Linked DNA regions of Homo sapiens: regions 1, 3 and 4 are each reported to be linked to region 2. The links are microRNA targets in miRTarBase. Many come from high-throughput screens and were not tested one by one. Region 2 holds a microRNA gene; each other region holds the end of a gene's coding sequence.

The links. Region 2 holds the annotated microRNA hsa-miR-8063 (UCAAAAUCAGGAGUCGGGGCUU, at 1,895-1,916, shown strand). A microRNA usually pairs through its seed, bases 2 to 8, with sites in the 3' UTR of a target mRNA and lowers its output. Matches are read on the target gene's strand: a 7mer-m8 pairs with bases 2 to 8, a 7mer-A1 pairs with bases 2 to 7 and ends in A, and an 8mer does both.
Region 1: the mRNA of GALM is a reported target of hsa-miR-8063. Seed matches in the 3' UTR shown: 8mer at 2,585-2,592.
Region 3: miRTarBase lists ZDHHC21 as a target of hsa-miR-8063. Seed matches in the 3' UTR shown: 7mer-m8 at 2,033-2,039.
Region 4: the mRNA of FAM216B is a reported target of hsa-miR-8063. Seed matches in the 3' UTR shown: 7mer-A1 at 763-769 and 7mer-m8 at 1,234-1,240.

What each region holds. Positions count from the first base shown.
Region 1 is chr2:38,733,219-38,737,275 of GRCh38, reverse strand. GALM (galactose mutarotase) reads right to left here. Exons shown (of 7, transcript NM_138801.3): 7 at 2,511-3,788. The coding sequence ends at 3,711. LOC124905993 (a long non-coding RNA gene) reads left to right here and starts at 3,726. Exons shown (of 3, transcript XR_007086292.1): 1 at 3,726-3,810.
Region 2 is chr15:36,970,680-36,974,746 of GRCh38, reverse strand. It overlaps MIR8063 (microRNA 8063), which reads left to right and starts at 1,846; the gene lies at 1,846-1,926. All of the region lies in intron 8 of MEIS2 (Meis homeobox 2), which reads left to right.
Region 3 is chr9:14,615,148-14,619,204 of GRCh38, reverse strand. ZDHHC21 (zDHHC palmitoyltransferase 21) reads left to right here. Exons shown (of 10, transcript NM_178566.6): 10 at 107-4,057. The coding sequence ends at 239. Among named protein-coding and RNA genes, the nearest start is that of ZDHHC21, 76 kb to the left of the region's middle.
Region 4 is chr13:42,788,399-42,792,455 of GRCh38, forward strand. It overlaps FAM216B (family with sequence similarity 216 member B), which reads left to right. Exons shown (of 4, transcript NM_001318932.2): 4 at 193-3,151. The coding sequence ends at 392. Among named protein-coding and RNA genes, the nearest start is that of FAM216B, 8.8 kb to the left of the region's middle.

The DNA of each region.
Region 1 (4,057 bases), not on the chromosome of region 2:
TGTACAATTTTTTATTTTTGAGACAGTCTTGCTCTGTAACCCAGGCTGGAGTGCAGTGGTGCAATCTAGGCTCACTGCAACCTCCGCTTCGCAGGTTCAAGCAGTTATCTGCCTCAGCCTCCTGAGTAGCTGGGATTACAGGCACCTGCCACCATGCCTGGCTAATTTTTGTGTTTTTAGTAGAGACGGGATTTCACCATCTTGGCCAGGCTGGTCTTGAACTCCTGACCTAGTGATCCACCCGCCTTGGCCTCCCAAACTGCTGGGATTACAGGCGTGAGCCACCGCGTCCAGCACCTTCTAAAATTTTACTTCTTGCTGGGGCCTTCAGCGATTTTATCATAAAATCACCCAATTATGCTGACATGCTGTCACATGTCACAATCTATGTCTTATAAGCACATGGAAGGGCTTCTCAAGCAAAGTTATGTGTTTCATGAAAAAGGACAGATTGGTTGCTGCCACAAAAAGAGTTTCTCTAAATTTTTGCTTCCCTCAGATGCATGGTGTGACAAATGTAGCCTTTTTTTTTTTTAAGACAGAGTCTCGCTCTGTCGCCCAGGCTGGAGTGCAGTGGCGAGATCTCGGCTCACTCCAACCTCCACTTCCCTGGTTCAAGCAATTTCCCTCTCTCAGCCTCCTGAGTAGCTGGGATTACAGGTGCATGCCACCACGCCCAGCTAATTTTTTTGTATTATTAGTAGAGACGGTTGGCCAGACTGGTCTCAAACCAGGTTTCACCTGGTTGGCCAGACTGGTCTCAAACTCCTGACCTCAGGCAATCCACCCACCTTGGCCTCCCAAAGTGCTGGGATTACAGATGTGAGCCACAGCGCCTGGCCGCCTTTTTTACTTGCTTTTATAAACACCATTAATTTAAAGGCCAGTAACTTATTTCAGCTGCCCTACAGGCAATGAATATCCTTACTTGGACTACTGTAGACTTGGCTTCTTATAAAAACAATAATCTTTTTGGACAGAAGAAAACAAAGTATTTGGCTAATTAATTAATTAATTTGGCATTCTCAAACCTAGAGGCCATTACATTAAGAACTAGTTTGTAGTTGTTACATTTCTTTGTTTTGTCTCAGTGGATCCAGGGCTGGAATCGCCCCCATAGTGGCAGCAGGGGAGACCCCATCAGGGAGTGATCCAAACTATCTCGAGATAGGGCCGGCTGGGATTTCAAAGAAAGAAGCTCTAAGCGCCAGGGTGATCAATCCAAAGCATTTATTAGAGGAACTTCCTTACAGAGTGCTGCAGCAATGGTTGAGAGAGAAAAGGGGTGTTCTGCCCAGGTATATCAGCAGTGAGGGAGTTTCTATGACAGTTAAAGGAATTTGGCTCAGGGCCAGAGCCAGTTTCTTTTTTCTTTTTCTTTTTTTTTTTTTTTTTTTTTGAGACAGAGTCTTGCTGTCACCCAGGCTGGAGTGCAATGAGAGTCTTGCTGTGACCCAGGCTGGAGTGCAATGGCATGATTTTGGCTCACTGCAACCTCCGCCTCCTGGGCTTAAGCAATTCTCCTGCTTCAGCTTCCCGACTAACTGAGATTACAGGCACCCGCCACCATGCCCAGCTAATTTTTTTGTATTTTTTTTTTTTTTTTTAGTTGAGACGGGGTTTCACCATGTTGGCCAGGCTGGTCTTGAATGCCTGATCTCAGGTGATCCACCCGCCTCGGCCTCCCAAAGTGTTGGGATTACAGGCGTGAGCCACTGCGCCCGGCCCAGTGCCAGTTTCTTTTAGTGTTTTAGGGAACAACCTAGACAGATTTATCAGTGCCTGGGAATGTTCAAGGCCCGGTTTGGGTTCAAGCCTGCTAGGAAAAATCTGCAGCTGGCTAGGTGACAAAGGTCAAGGCACTCTGTGACTTTTGGTCAGGATACAGAAAGCAGGGGCAACTGGCAACTCTACACTTGTGAATAAGAAAATGTTCATTCTCTTCTTCTCTGGGATTTCCTAAATGATTGCTGGCACCTAGAGTATGAGAACCCTGCGTCGAACAATTTAATAATCAAATTGGTAGCTAGGTTGCAGTCAGCTTAATAGTTCACCTCTGAGGCCTCTTGGCTAATGTATATATTGGTAACTTTAATAAGAGTGGAGAGATCTGCAGGCAGCATCTTGCTCAAGTCACCAAAGTTAACCTCACCAGTGAGAAGACAACTGAGCATGTACCTCACCTGACTGGCTGCTGTGGGCAGCATCACACCTGACCTGAATCCCTTCACAGACCCAGCAGAGGGCTGTGTACAGAGCAGGTGCTCAGAAAAATCCATGCTGAAGTGAATTAAAAAATAAACAAGATCTTTGGTTTATTATCGGTTACAAAGAAAGAGGAGGTGTGGAAAGCTACTTCCACTGAGATAGCTTTCCTAACTGTTAGGTAGGAAAATGCCAGGGCTCCCACTGGAGGGCAAAGTAGAATCCAGAACACACCCATATTCTTGGTCCATTTCCCAAAGGTCCACGCCTGAGAGATTTCAAGCTGAGTAAAGGAACAAGTCTTCTGAAGATGCAGATTTTGGTTTTATTTCAATTCAGTACAGCATACACTAGTATAACATACTTTTTTTTTTTTTTTTCAAAATCACCAACCAAAACCCATCACTGATACTTTGATTGTCTAGGAAAGAAGGAGCCCCAGCCTTGTCACATACAATCTCTGTCCCTGGTGCAATGTCATCCTCACTGTGCTGTGAAAGGCAAGGCTCTCTCCTCACCCTAATAGCTCCTGTTTCCAGTGCTTGCCTGTCTTTCTTCCCAAGCGTTGGCCGGGCTGTGCTTTCTCAGTTAACCCAAAGGCTCTTGCAGGCCTTTTCCTCTCGGAAGTCCCCTCCCTCTCCCGAGAGAGAGAGCTGCTTTTTTTTCCTTTTTTTTTTTTTTTTTTTTGAGATCGAGTTTTGCTCTGTTGCCCAGTGCAGTGGCATGATCTCGGCTCACTGCAACCTCCACCTCCCAGGTTCAAGCGATTCTCCTGCTTCAGCCTCCCAAGTAGCTGGGACTACAGGTGCGTGCTACCACACCCAGCTAATTTTTTATGTAGAGACGGGGTTTCACCGTGTTAGCCAGGATGGTCTCGATCTCCTGACCTCGTGATCCGCCTGCCTCGGCCTTCCAAAGTGCTGGGATTACAGGCGTGAGCCACCGTGCCCGGCCTCAACTTTTTATTTATTAGCTTGTTGGTCTTCAACCTCTGTAAGCCTCAGTTTCCTCACTTATCAATCATCTACTGCTGTATAGAGACAGGTCCATCTCCTAGCATGCAGGGTGAGGCTAATGTGACATTTGAAAACTCCAGAGTGCTGCTGACAGTGGTTGGAGGTGAAGGAGGAGGAAATAAAAGCAATGTGAGAATAGCTTTAAAGAAAGGAAGGGCAAAAAGTTGAAAAGAAAGAGGCAGTGTGGAGAGATGGAGCCAACAGCAGCATGGGAGTCCCTGGCTAGGGTCAGGGCTTAGATGACGACATTGTTGGTTGGGTTCACTTGCCCTCTGAACTGCACAGGGAATCGAGCTGGTCATTAGACATGGCCTGGAGCCAGTCACTGGAAAAGGAAATCAATACCCAGACTGATTCTCAGAACAGCCACCATTTGTATGATTTTAATCCATAGAATCATTCTGAAAGCTTCTTAATCTTCACCTTTTTTCTGGACAGGAGACAGGTGGCTGAGCCTAGCCCTGGACTGGATCATATCTTCACACTTCCTTAAGCCACAGAAAACTTGAACCAGGTGGTGTGGTCATACTCCTCACCAGGCCTCAGCAGCACAGGAGGGAAGCGGGGCTGTGAAGGGGAAACAACACAGGTGATGCTTGACACCGCAGGCTGCAACATTAACCATTTGGGTGTGCTTCTGGACGGGCTTCTAGACCAGTGCTCTGTGGATGGCTGCCAGTGCGGGAACTGTTTATGATTGGTTCATAGTGAGATAAAGAACTTTAATCAGAGTGAAAAAAGCACACTTTGTTAAAGGAAGGCTTTCCTGATGAAGGGAAGCAGTGTGTTGATCTATAATCTGGTGTAAGGTGTAGGCTTTTTTTTTTTTTTTTTGA
Region 2 (4,067 bases):
TGGCACGCAGATTTAACAGTAGGACCTGGTTCCTCATGCTGGCTGGTTCCTCATGCCATATCCATCTGATACTGGATTTAGCTTACAGAGGACGTTAACCCATGTAAGTCAAAGCCACAGACTTAAACATCCAGAAAGTATAAGGTGGGCTGAGGGGCAGCCCTGTAAGGTAAGATCTTATTTCAACGTGATTAAATGCCTTCTATTAGGAAAATTGCTTTTTTGCTTCTGTTTTTCATATGTAAATGTTAACGTGGTATGTCATAGCTCTCAAATAATTTGGGAGAATATGGAAAATCATTGAAATGTTGATAAACCAAATTATTTAATTTTTGGAATATGAACAATTTGATTTTTGGAGTGTGAACAAAAATATTACTAATGAAATCAGTGGACTTAATGGTCTTACTGGGGTCAACTTCTGTGGCTCGATGGAAAGAAAAAATAAACGAACTATGTAGGAGCTTGAAATATGAACACTCAGAATTCTGAAATTCATTTTTTGAATTTCACTATGATGTTTGGTGTTTTAAAACACAAAATTATAGATTCAATATCAGCCCTGATATAGAATGTTCTGAAATAATGAAGAGCTGGCATTTCACAATACAGGATAACCAGACAAGAATTTATCTGTACCTGAAAGTTTGGTGACACTCTTCGAATTTCTAGGAAATGGAAATGTGACTGATTTTTATTGAGAGTTTTCAAGGTCAAAGATAGGAACTGCTCTCAAGGCATGATAGCTAGAAAAATCGAGGGGGAAATTGATGTGAAATATTGCTGAATTAAGTGTTTAGAAATACGTAAGTACAAGTTCTGGCAGGTATCCATAGACAACAAGGCATATATCATCTTTAAATATCATAAGGTTAATTTTGGAAATCAGTGGATTTGTATATCTCACGAACATTTCAAGTGGAATACTGGCTTTTTTTTTTAAATAAGAAGAAAACAATGTCATTAGTTTTTAGGGTTTTTTTAATTAAAAGTTCAGTTACAGTTTTTTAGTGTTAATATTTTAACTTCTTATTTGAACGTCATTACTCCAGTCATCCTCTTTATTTTTTCAACTCTTATTATGTGCAAAGCACCAAACCTGATTCTTCTAATTACAACTTGTATTTTACCATGGCAATTCGGATAATTTAAAATAGATGAACGCTTTGGGTTTATTCACTCATGTTTTCTTTTTTAAACCAATGTTTTATAACACCTACTAAGTTCCAGGCTCTTTATTCTATAGTTTTATGCCTACTCTCCTTTTCTCCATTAGAAGAATGCAGATCTAAGCTTTAAAGAGGCAGCAGCATCCAAATAAGAGTCAGTGCGCTTAACCAAAGAACAGCTTTTAACTGTTTCCTAGTGAAACATTTTGAAATAAAGGTCTTTCTACCGGGGCAATAGGTGTTGTGCCAGTGTCACACCAGAGAGTAGAAGCCTTTGAAGAGCCCTTTTGTGACTTGGCCACTCTGCAAAACTCTGTGTCTGAATCCTCAAGCTAAGTGGAATCTTGATTATGTTTTCTATTTGTAAATGCTCTACAGCTTATCCAGCATGATTCTATCATTTTCTTACTTAATCCTCCCAAATACCTGTAAAGCAGGTATTATTGTCCTATTTTATAGATGAGCAAACTGAGGCTTAGAGAGATTAAGTGACTTTAGTTTCCGATGGCCAAGTGGAAACTAAAGCTTAGTCTTTCTTCCACAGCTGTGTTGGTGTATATCGACAAGTAAAAGATGTCTATGCAAACACAGACTAATTCTAGTACATACTTAAGAGATTTAAAAGATAGTTGTTCAGTCAGCCCATACAAAGAAATTGTTTCTTAGTCCTAAGCAATAGAGGCAGTTTCAACAGATGTGTAGACTTTTGATATGAGAAATTGGTTTCAAAATCAGGAGTCGGGGCTTTACTGCTTTTCATGCACAGAAAAAAAAAAGTGTATCTCTATGAATTGTCACAACTGATTCCTCTAAATTCTGCTTTAGAAAAAAAGAATTTGTTATACACTTGAATCTTAAACTGTAGTAAAATTAAGGTCTTTTGGAAACCAGGAGAGGTGTTGGTCCCTGGGGTTCCTTTGAATCATATCAGAGTACACTATTGAAAGAAGGAGAAAACAGGACAAAAAATATTTTAAAAGGCATAAGACACATAAATGAATTTTTAAAAATAGTTTCTATTGGCCAGGTGCGGTGGCTCACACCTGTAATCCCAGCACTTTGGGAGGCCAAGGTGGGCGGATCACTTGAGGTCAGGAGTTCGAGACCAGATCATTGGGTACCTTGAAGGCCATGATAAACATTTTCGTCTTCAGCCTGAAAATAATGGAAAGCCACTGAAGCATGCCAAGCAGTAGAGTGACAAAATCACACGGGTCCTTTGCAGGGATCACTCTGGCTCCATTCTGGAGAACAGAAGGAGGACTAATGTTAATGCTCACCAGCTAGTCAGGATGTTTGTTTTTTTAAACTCAGTCCTTTTAGTTACACTTTATCTCTTAAGGTTCATTCTCTTCCTACTACATCTTATCATAACTTACTTTTGTGCTACTCAGGCAGAAGTTTTTCTTTTTTAAAACTTTTTATTGACAGCATAACGGAACATCATGAAAAAATTTTGCCACCTGAAAAATACCATATTCTCATTTCTTCAATAAAGTTAGTTTTACATTTATAGTTTCTGTTACTATATTGTTCTCCTATTGATATTGCAATGTCTTTATCATATTCCATTGAGATGTATTAAAATTTAGTTACGTGTTGCTCCACACTTGGACATTTAGGTAAGAAGTTTTAACCGAGGATGACAGGGATCAGTGAAATGCTGTCCAAATATATTCTTTTCCATTTTGCAGCAATAGAAACTAAGTTGGGAGAGCATATTCTGCCACTTTCAACCCCAATTATGTGAAAATCTCCCTTTATGAAGAATGTAAAGTCTCTGAGTATTTGTATTAAGAGTAATGCATGTTGCTTAGGCTGTTAAGGAAATATTGATTTCTGACCCTTAACTGAAATACTTAGCTTTCATTTTTCTTCTTTTTACATGAATTGTGTATATTGTGTTCCCCTCAGGGAAAACTTAAAAGCATTTTGTGTTATGAAGGCTCCATTCTAGGATCTTATTGCTTTTGAGATGAATAAATGGAATGCTTGCTATCACTGGAACAGCCCTTTTTTTTTTTTTTTTTTTTTTTTTTTAATGTAACAAGGCATACAAGTAATACAGGGCTGAATTTGGCCCCAGAACTTCTGAAGTTCCAAGCCAGTTTCTTACGGCCAAATTTAGCTTCCAGCTTTCAGTTGATGAGGAGCTTTGGCATATAGGCAATCTAATTTTTGTTCAGTAAAAACCTCCTTGGGTGTTTTAAATATAACTTTAAAATTTGTATTACCAGGTGATGCTTAAGCATTTCTTAGACATTGACTCTAAATAATTGCTCAGAAAACAATGTGCCTTAAAGGTGTTTTATACCAGCCTTCGAGGTATTAGAATGAGATGAGTTGGCGCCAAAACATTTCAATATGCTATAAGGAGATGAAATATGGCCAAACAGGTTTTTATGTTCTGATTATTCCTTTTTCCTGTTACTAGCCAGAGGCAGGTAAATCGACTTTACATCCCCCACCCCCCCAAGCCCACCACCACAGCAATTTTATTTTTATCAACCCCTTAGGAAATTTCAGAGGGTTTTTTTTTTCCTATTCTTTGAACACATACAATGGGAAAATTAAAACTTCTAAAAGTTTCTTATCTATTAATCTGTTGATGAGATGTTGCTTTAAACACATTTTATATTACTAATTAATTTAATTATACATACTGCAGTTGTATTAACACATTTTCTGTTCTCTGCTCTAACGTGACACAGTGCCCTCCCGCAGCCACCTTAACCTAAAGCTTTAATTGCTTTCTCCTTAGCCTCAGCTCATGTTTGATTTATCTGATTTCTTTGTATAAAGATTCTCTAGTTTACGATGTGTACACAGTCATTAAATTGGTGTTGATGTTTATGCAGTGAACTTGCCAACTGGTTACAGCGGACATCCCTTTATGAA
Region 3 (4,057 bases), not on the chromosome of region 2:
ATTCATCAGAGTCCAGTAATGGATCCCCAGCCAATCTGTATTGTTTTAGCTGACTGAAGTGCACCATGGGAGTGCTGTCTTTCACTAATAATGCTGTCTTCTGTAGATCGAGGCCCCGAAAGCCATGGCAGCAGACCTTCTCAGAAGTTTTTGGCACTCGTTGGAAGATCCTGTGGTTCATTCCTTTCAGGCAGAGGCAACCACTGCGAGTTCCCTACCACTTTGCCAATCATGTCTAAACAGATGGATGGTGGGCACAGATGGGTCCTCCATGCTGGCAATGCGTTACAGGTTTTATGATAATAGAACTATGACAGTCTTCAAGTCAATTAAAATCCACCCACCAGTCTTAGGCATCATAATGTGCCCCAGGCTTTATTTTAATAGTGATCTTGATCCTGTTGTGGGACTAATACAAGATCTATATTTAAGTTTTAAAGCATGTTTACTTTCAAATTAGCTTTCCACAGGGATTTCTTGAAATGCTTTTGTTATTAAACTCAAAAGGCAGTGATTAGGATGAAATAATTGTACATAATTTATTTTAGTACTGACAGTGTTACAGATTCTAATTTATGGTAAATTTCAGATGTTTATTTAAAATTTTCACTTTTAAACAGTAACCAAATCTAAATTTAATTATTCAGGTTTTACAAAAGTTGATACACCTTCTTATAGTATAGGTAAATTTTCTTTTTCAAATCCAATTTAAAATAACCTTTCCTTTTAAATGTGCTGCAACGTTTTTAAAAATGCAGCAGCATAGGAGTGAACAACAGCAACACAAAACGGGCATTGGTTTCTTAGGAGTGGCTTGCTTACGTTTTCTTCTTTTTTCTTCACCAAAACCAACATGAAAGTACCACTGAAGTAAAACACCAACTACCTACCTTACTATAAAGGAAATGTTAAAATTTTTTTCACAATAATTTTTTCAATTTTCACTATTACTGTTGTAATTATTGATTGTGATTAAAATATTTGCTCCCAGGAGAACTCCTGACCAGTGGGCATGTATTCCTATTTTATCCTAAGATTTTAATGAGCAAAAAGGGGAGAGAATTTGCAATAACTTCACAATTACCTTTTCTAGTGCAGTTATATTAGAATGCATATGTTTTTAAAATGCTAGTATAACTAGATAGTATATAATGTACAGTATAAAGAGGAATATTGTGCTTTTGAAAAGAGTATACTTTTTACTTTTATTTATGTACTAGTAGATGTAAAATTTCACATTGAAGGTTTATATATATTGGCCAACTCATATAGAAATTTTATTTATAGGAAGCTACTACTAAAAAAAGTCACTAACTTTGTGTACCTATAATCCCTAAATTAAAATTAAATTTTAATTGGCTGGCTGTAATTTGCATTGAGAGACCTTTTACTAGTAGCTAGTGTTAGGAAGTGAACCTAAAATAAGAAAATATAATGATCTGTGTTTATCATTAGCCTTGTACAAATGTAAATTACTAATAGTGATGTTCTTTTGCAAGGCATAGAACATTTGTATGAAAAGACATTTAGTATGCTTTGAAAAAAACTCAGCTTTTAGTTTTTTTCCATTAGAATACTGCAAAACCCATATATCTTTTTAAAAAATTTATGTACTCACAGTCTTTCCCTTGAAGAGAAGATTGAAAAAGTCTACTGTTCATAAACCATGCTAACATTTTCCTTTTAGCTAGTTTTGAAAGTAAGGAACAATACCTGGGAAATAATTAAACAGAAGGTTACCATTGTCAGCCAGTTGGCTATACTGTGGTTAGTTCTTTCAGAAATTGTAAATATCTTGTAGCATATTCTGAAATAATAGAGTAAGTTCTTCTCAGAGATGTTAATATCATGTTTTTCATGTTCTAATTAGAATACTTTATTACTTACAAACTCAGAAATACGAACAGAAATACAGCAGACGAACATATTTATTGGTACTGAAAAGAGACGTAGTAAATTAAATAGAAGAAATATATTTATAAAGCTTAGTGAAACACAAAATTAGAATGTTCATGTCAGGCACAAGGGTTTGGATTTTGTGCAAGCTAATTTGGCCACATTTGGCCTGGTGACAGAACTGTTCATAAGGAAGTAATATATAGATAAGGTAGGTAGATATCAGTTGAATGCCTTATATTGTATACATTCCTTTCAAATAAAGACCTTGAGAAAACAGCAGAGCCAAGTGAAGATCACCTAAAGAACTTTGTGGCTAATTTATACTTCATGTAGTAGCAGTGGGTACTGGGCAGGGTCTCTTTCCCACTCTGATGATTTGTGCTCTTATTTTTCCTAGATTTACCTCATCTAGGGCATATTCTTTTCCCTCTTCCTCTTTACCTTTCCTGGTCCTGATCCCTCTGTACTCAGTTCCCCTAAATTATTGGACTACAAACTAATATACTAGAAAAGCATACACTTATTTTATTTGAATGCAGAAATGCTATCTATCAGTATATATACATAAGAATGTATATTACAGTATATCTATATATACTTAACACTGTAACTTTCAGTATTCCCCAGTTAGCGTACCTAACTCTCCTGTGGGTTTTGTTAATTCTTATTAGACTACTAGAGAAAAACCAACTGGCAGTTTGCTAAGCATATCTACTGGTGTTGTTTCTGCGCCCTCTTTTGGCTAATTGATGTAATTATACTGGCTCTAAAGATTTACTGCCCCATAAGTAAATAGTATAGCCACATTCTGAACATATCAAAAGTACAAACTTAGGAGGAGTGTATGTACAAAAATGTAAAATTTTATGAAAATGAACATGTTTTTATGATGTTATTTCTAGTTCATAAGAATGTGATGACTGCTTTGCTTCATTTATGTACGTTCCCATTATATTCTTGCTGTCAATCAATCACAAATTTATATCAGATTAGGATAAACTAAGCCATTTTATGTATTTTATTTTAAACCTTATTTTGGCAGAGTAATTCCTTAGAATTGGAAAAGCTGTTACTTTGAAATTACCAATTTATTACAAAACATAGAAATGTATTGTAGCTACAAAGACAACCAAGCATTTTCTGTGTTTTAATGAATATCTAAAAAACTACATTTAGTTTATTTTACTCAGTTTTGAAATGATTTTTTTACTGGCTCTATTGCCTTAAAATAACTAAGAGATTAATGATTCTTTGTATAATTTTCCTTTTCTTTGTTCTTTTTTTTACATTTCGCAGAGTTATATCTATAGTTTTAGTAACAATTTCTTATGTATTCTGGATAACTGAAAACAACTAAAGGTGTTGGGCATTAGAAAATAATTGTGAGCAGTAAGATTACTGATGTAATATGTATGTTGGACTGAAGTATTTCTTTATAAACATTCTATTTGATTTTAAGCAAAATGTATGTTAAAGCATGTTTTTACATCAGTAAAGTCATTTGTCGACCTTCTGGAAATGAAAGGTTTTTACCTAGATACTGTAAGTTACACCTCCTTAACAATCATATTTGTCATTGTTGTTTTCTGCAAACAAAAATGTTTATGGGCTTCATGTAGGCTTAAGATTGTAGGCAAAAATGGACTGAGTTCAGGACCCTTCAAGCAGTAGGCATTCAGTTACAGAGCAGTTGGTACTTTGTAACCCAGACTTACAGTTTAAAAATATCAAGTTAGCTGATGTTTCATTATAATAAAAATACTATTTTGCTTAAGAGTTGTATTACAAATATTTGTGCTTAACATTAGAAATAGCTGTTTTAAATTGTAGTTAACATATTAACTTTTTCAGAAAAAAAGCATGGTTTATTTTTAATAATGAAATAGAGAACATAATACGTAATGTTCAGTATAACAGCTGAGTTAAAACATCTGCCAGGATTAACATCAGTGCGTTTTTGCCAATGCATAGAGGCATTTTTCTCTAAGTATGATGGCTAATGATAACTATTCTTTGTTACACATTCAAGTCACTCCCATACAAGTAACTAGTGGGTGATATGTTTCACTCCAAAGGGTGTATTAATTCTGAATGCTAATCATGAAGACTTAAGTTAGGACAACACTTCAAACCAGGAAGTGTGAACTGATTTAGATTA
Region 4 (4,057 bases), not on the chromosome of region 2:
TATTAACTTATTGAATGAGAAATACAAAAGAAGAAAAATATATTTCCAATCTTCAAAGATCATATAATCTGGGCATGCTTACCACAAGAGTAGAATAAATTTTGTACACATAAGTAAATATTTGCAGTTTTGTTTTCTTATTTGCCTTGTAAAATTGTTGATTTTGAAGTTTCTCTCATTTCTTTCCCCTAGGCTATATTACTCAACGGGAAGCCTTGTCTTATGCTCTTGTACTTAGAGATTCAACCAAGAGAGCCTCAGCCAAGGTAGCTCCTCAAAGAACCATTCCCCGGAAAACTTCAGCCATGACAAGAAGATGTCCATCAGTACTACCTGTATCTGTGGTTCTACCTAGGGCCCAAAGTAAAAGGCGCCAAGTGCTCAGGAACTGAGACTTGGCAGCATTTTCAGAAACAGGAAGTTTGCCCATGTATCCCTGGTATCTAGTGGGTGCTTTGTGCATATTTGTTGAATGACAGTGAATAATTTCTAATATAAACCCCAGACCTAAAAATAATCTCTGATTCATATAAATTTTGCCAGCAAGACCAAGAGGTTTAAGAGCAATGGAGCCGAGAGTAAGCAAGCCTTTCCACATAACATCCGTAGAGTAAAAGGACTTTTAAAGCTTTCAAAGTAAAAGTTTACTTTGGATTAGAACCTCCTAGAGAAGTCCCCAAAACAGTGAAAGGGGACAAGTGACCAGAAAGGGCCAGGTCCTCTGTCACTGGGTGACCATTTCTAGCAAACTATCATGTATACATTTTGAAAATATACAAAACAACACAGGATTAACACTGATCATAGAGGGCTTACAAAATCATATCATCCCAGCAACAATTGGCCTGTGCATTTCCTTCCTCTCCTCTTCCCCATCAGGCAATGGCATTTAATTTAGCCCCAAAGCTCTTCTAGTTCTCACCTGGCTTGATCACTTTGTGTCATCTTGAAACATGCACTTATCAGTCTACCACAGCTGAATTGATTTTATGGAGCTGTAACTGGCCTTGACATGGGTAAGAGAATTCATGCACACATCTTTCCCTGGCAGCTGAAGAAACACTCTTAAAAGAATATGAAATAACCCCGAAGACTTTATTTCATGTCCAACCTTTCTGTGGCCTCAAATGTTTTAAGCAAAGCACATAAAACTATACTAAGCAGTGAGTCAGTTCATCATACAAAGGCATAGTATTGCATTAGTTATATTTAATGGTTATTTTCATCACCAGAGATTTTGTGTGTGTGTGTGTGTGTGTGTGTGTGTGTGTTAAAAATCAGTCACCAGTGCTCATGTAAAGTCAAAACAAAAAAATGCTTCTTCCTCATCATTGTAAAATACGTCACCCCATTCAAATCAGCTGATGCCTATGAAAGGAATTGGTTGAGGTGGAATATAAATTTTATTGACAAGGGATGTGCTAACATTGATCTGAAAGGAATATGCTGCATTATTATCAGAAAAAAAATCATTATCTTCTCTTTGCAATCATGAACATATAAGATATAAAAATTGTCATGAGATTCTGAACACTAGTATTGAGGTCCAGCACTACTTCCAAGCTCCTATCTGACTTTTCTTTGGGAGGAATGGGAAGTGTGGTTGGCCCACTAGTCTGATAAGAAGTCTTGGTGAAGCTAATACTGACCTTGCTGGGGTCATTCACTTAATCATAAAGAAGCTTCTTGACCTCTGCAAATTCTGGCCCTGACATGTATTCTAAATACCTTTACAGTTCTAAGTGAGAAATTGTTACATAGGCTTAGAAGAAGAAAAGACTCCAGTGGGACTGGGATGAGCTGCGTGGTAGCCCTCATAAAGCAGAGAGGTTGGTGGGAGACCTAACTTGGCCTATACTAGCCTTCCCATTGTTTTCACAATGGGCCTTTTATCCCCTCTGAACTGCTTGCCTGCACTTTTATCTTAGACTTTTTTTTTTGATGAGCATAGGTATTTGCTGTGTAAGCCTTATCTAGTGATGCAGAATATCAAGGAGGCCACTTACAATTCTAAGCTGCATCCCTGTATCAAAAATCTCAGAAGCACCTTGCATCTGATAGAGGCTTGTAAGAGCAGATTGACAGGTGAATGTCACAGGTCCATAAGAAGGACAAATAGATCTAAGTTGGGCAAAAGATTCTATTTGTTGGTTCTCCCTTCTAAGATGATAATATGCCCCTGCACTTGAGACCTTACTTGAAACTTAAAGAAATGTGATTGGTTATGGTGCTGGGAGAAAGGGGTGCACCTGGGAGGACACTGAGAAAGATAAACAAAGGGGAAGGAAGAGAGGACAACCTGTAACTTTTAGAAAAGGCTACTACTTTTAACTGTTGGAGAAAATGCTATTGCTTGCACTCACAATGTCAATATACATTATCAGAACTTAAGTCCTGGAGATCAGAGACTGTTTCACCTGAAATTGCTAGCACCTAGAATGGCCCCCGGTTGCGGTAGGCAATCAATAATACTCTTTGAATAATAATGAGGTTTTCAAAGATTCTGCAAGTCAGACTGGCCTCTGGCTTTGTGATATTATTCTAGAGTCCCAGTAACCCACAATTGTTGATGAGGAGTAGCAGTAGAATATCAAGGACAGGTGATGAGACAACAAGTCTATCCCGCAAAGGGCAGGGAATAGAGGGTACACTGGAAAGAATTTGAAAACAATAATAAAGCTGACTACAAGTTGGTCTATTTTTTATTACCACCATGAGCCAGCAATTCTAAATAATATCAGTGATAAAGTATTCATCCCCCAAAATATTTTATTGAACTAGGTTCTAAACAATTTCTGAGGTTACTGTTGAGTTTTAAATAATACATATATGTAAGCTTCAAAGTAGCACATTTGTACTGTTTTTCTTCAATAATCATTTTACTCCACATGGAAACTAATTCAGGGAATATCCTGCTATATAGTTGGCTCTCAGTACATATGGTGTCAGCTCATGTGTCTCCAGCCCCTGTAGTACTATATATTATTGCATTTAAATGATGGATTTGAAATAAACAATGATTATACCATGATTGTAAAGACAAGAAACAGAACCTGAAATACTTCAATTTTTGATTCTATGTGGCAGTTTAGAGTTTTTTAAAACAATTTTTATGTATAATTTATATGCAATAAATGCCCTCAAAGTTCAATGAATTTTTCTTCATTTCAATTACTATATTTTAATTTCAAGAAGATCTATGTAATTTTATTATAAATCTTTTTTGTAATCAGCTTTATAGTCTATTTTTGCTTGTATATGTATTCCCTCTTTTTTAAAAATAATATAGAATCAGGGGGTACAAATGCAGGTGTGTTACATGGGTATATTTCATAATGCTGGGGTTTGGGCTTCTATAGAACCCATCACCCAAATAGTAAACATAGTACCCAATAGGTCATTTTTTGACCCTTGCCCCCATCCCTCTCTCCTCTCTGTTGGAGTCATCAGTGTCTATTATTTCCATTTTTATGTCCAAATGTACCCTTTGTTTACTTTTCACTTATAAGTGAGAATATGTGGTTGTCTGTTTCTGCATTAATTGATTTTGGATAATGGCCTCCGGCTGCATTCATGTTGCTGCAAAGTACATGTTTTATTCCTTTTTATGGCTGCGTAGCATTCCATGGTGTGCGTGTGTGTGTGTGTGTGTGTGTGTGTGTGTGTGTGTAAGTATTACATTTTTAAAATCCAGTCCACTGTTGATGGACACTTAGGTTGATACTGTGACTTTGCTATGATGAATAGTGCTATCATAAACATATGAATGCAGATGTCTTTTTGAGAAAATAATTTCTTTTTCTTTGGGTAGATGCCCAGCAGTAGCATTGCTAGATGAACTAGTAGTTCTATTTTTATTTCTTTGAGAAATCTCCATACTGTTTTCCATAGAGGTTAAAAGTTCAATGAATTTTGACAAATGCATACAGTCACATAACCACCACCACAATCGACATAGACCGTTTTCACTAGCCCAGATGTCCCCCTATCCTTTTGCAGTCAATCTCCTCCCCTAAAGTCTGGCCCATGGAAATCACTGAGCTGCTCTCTATCACTC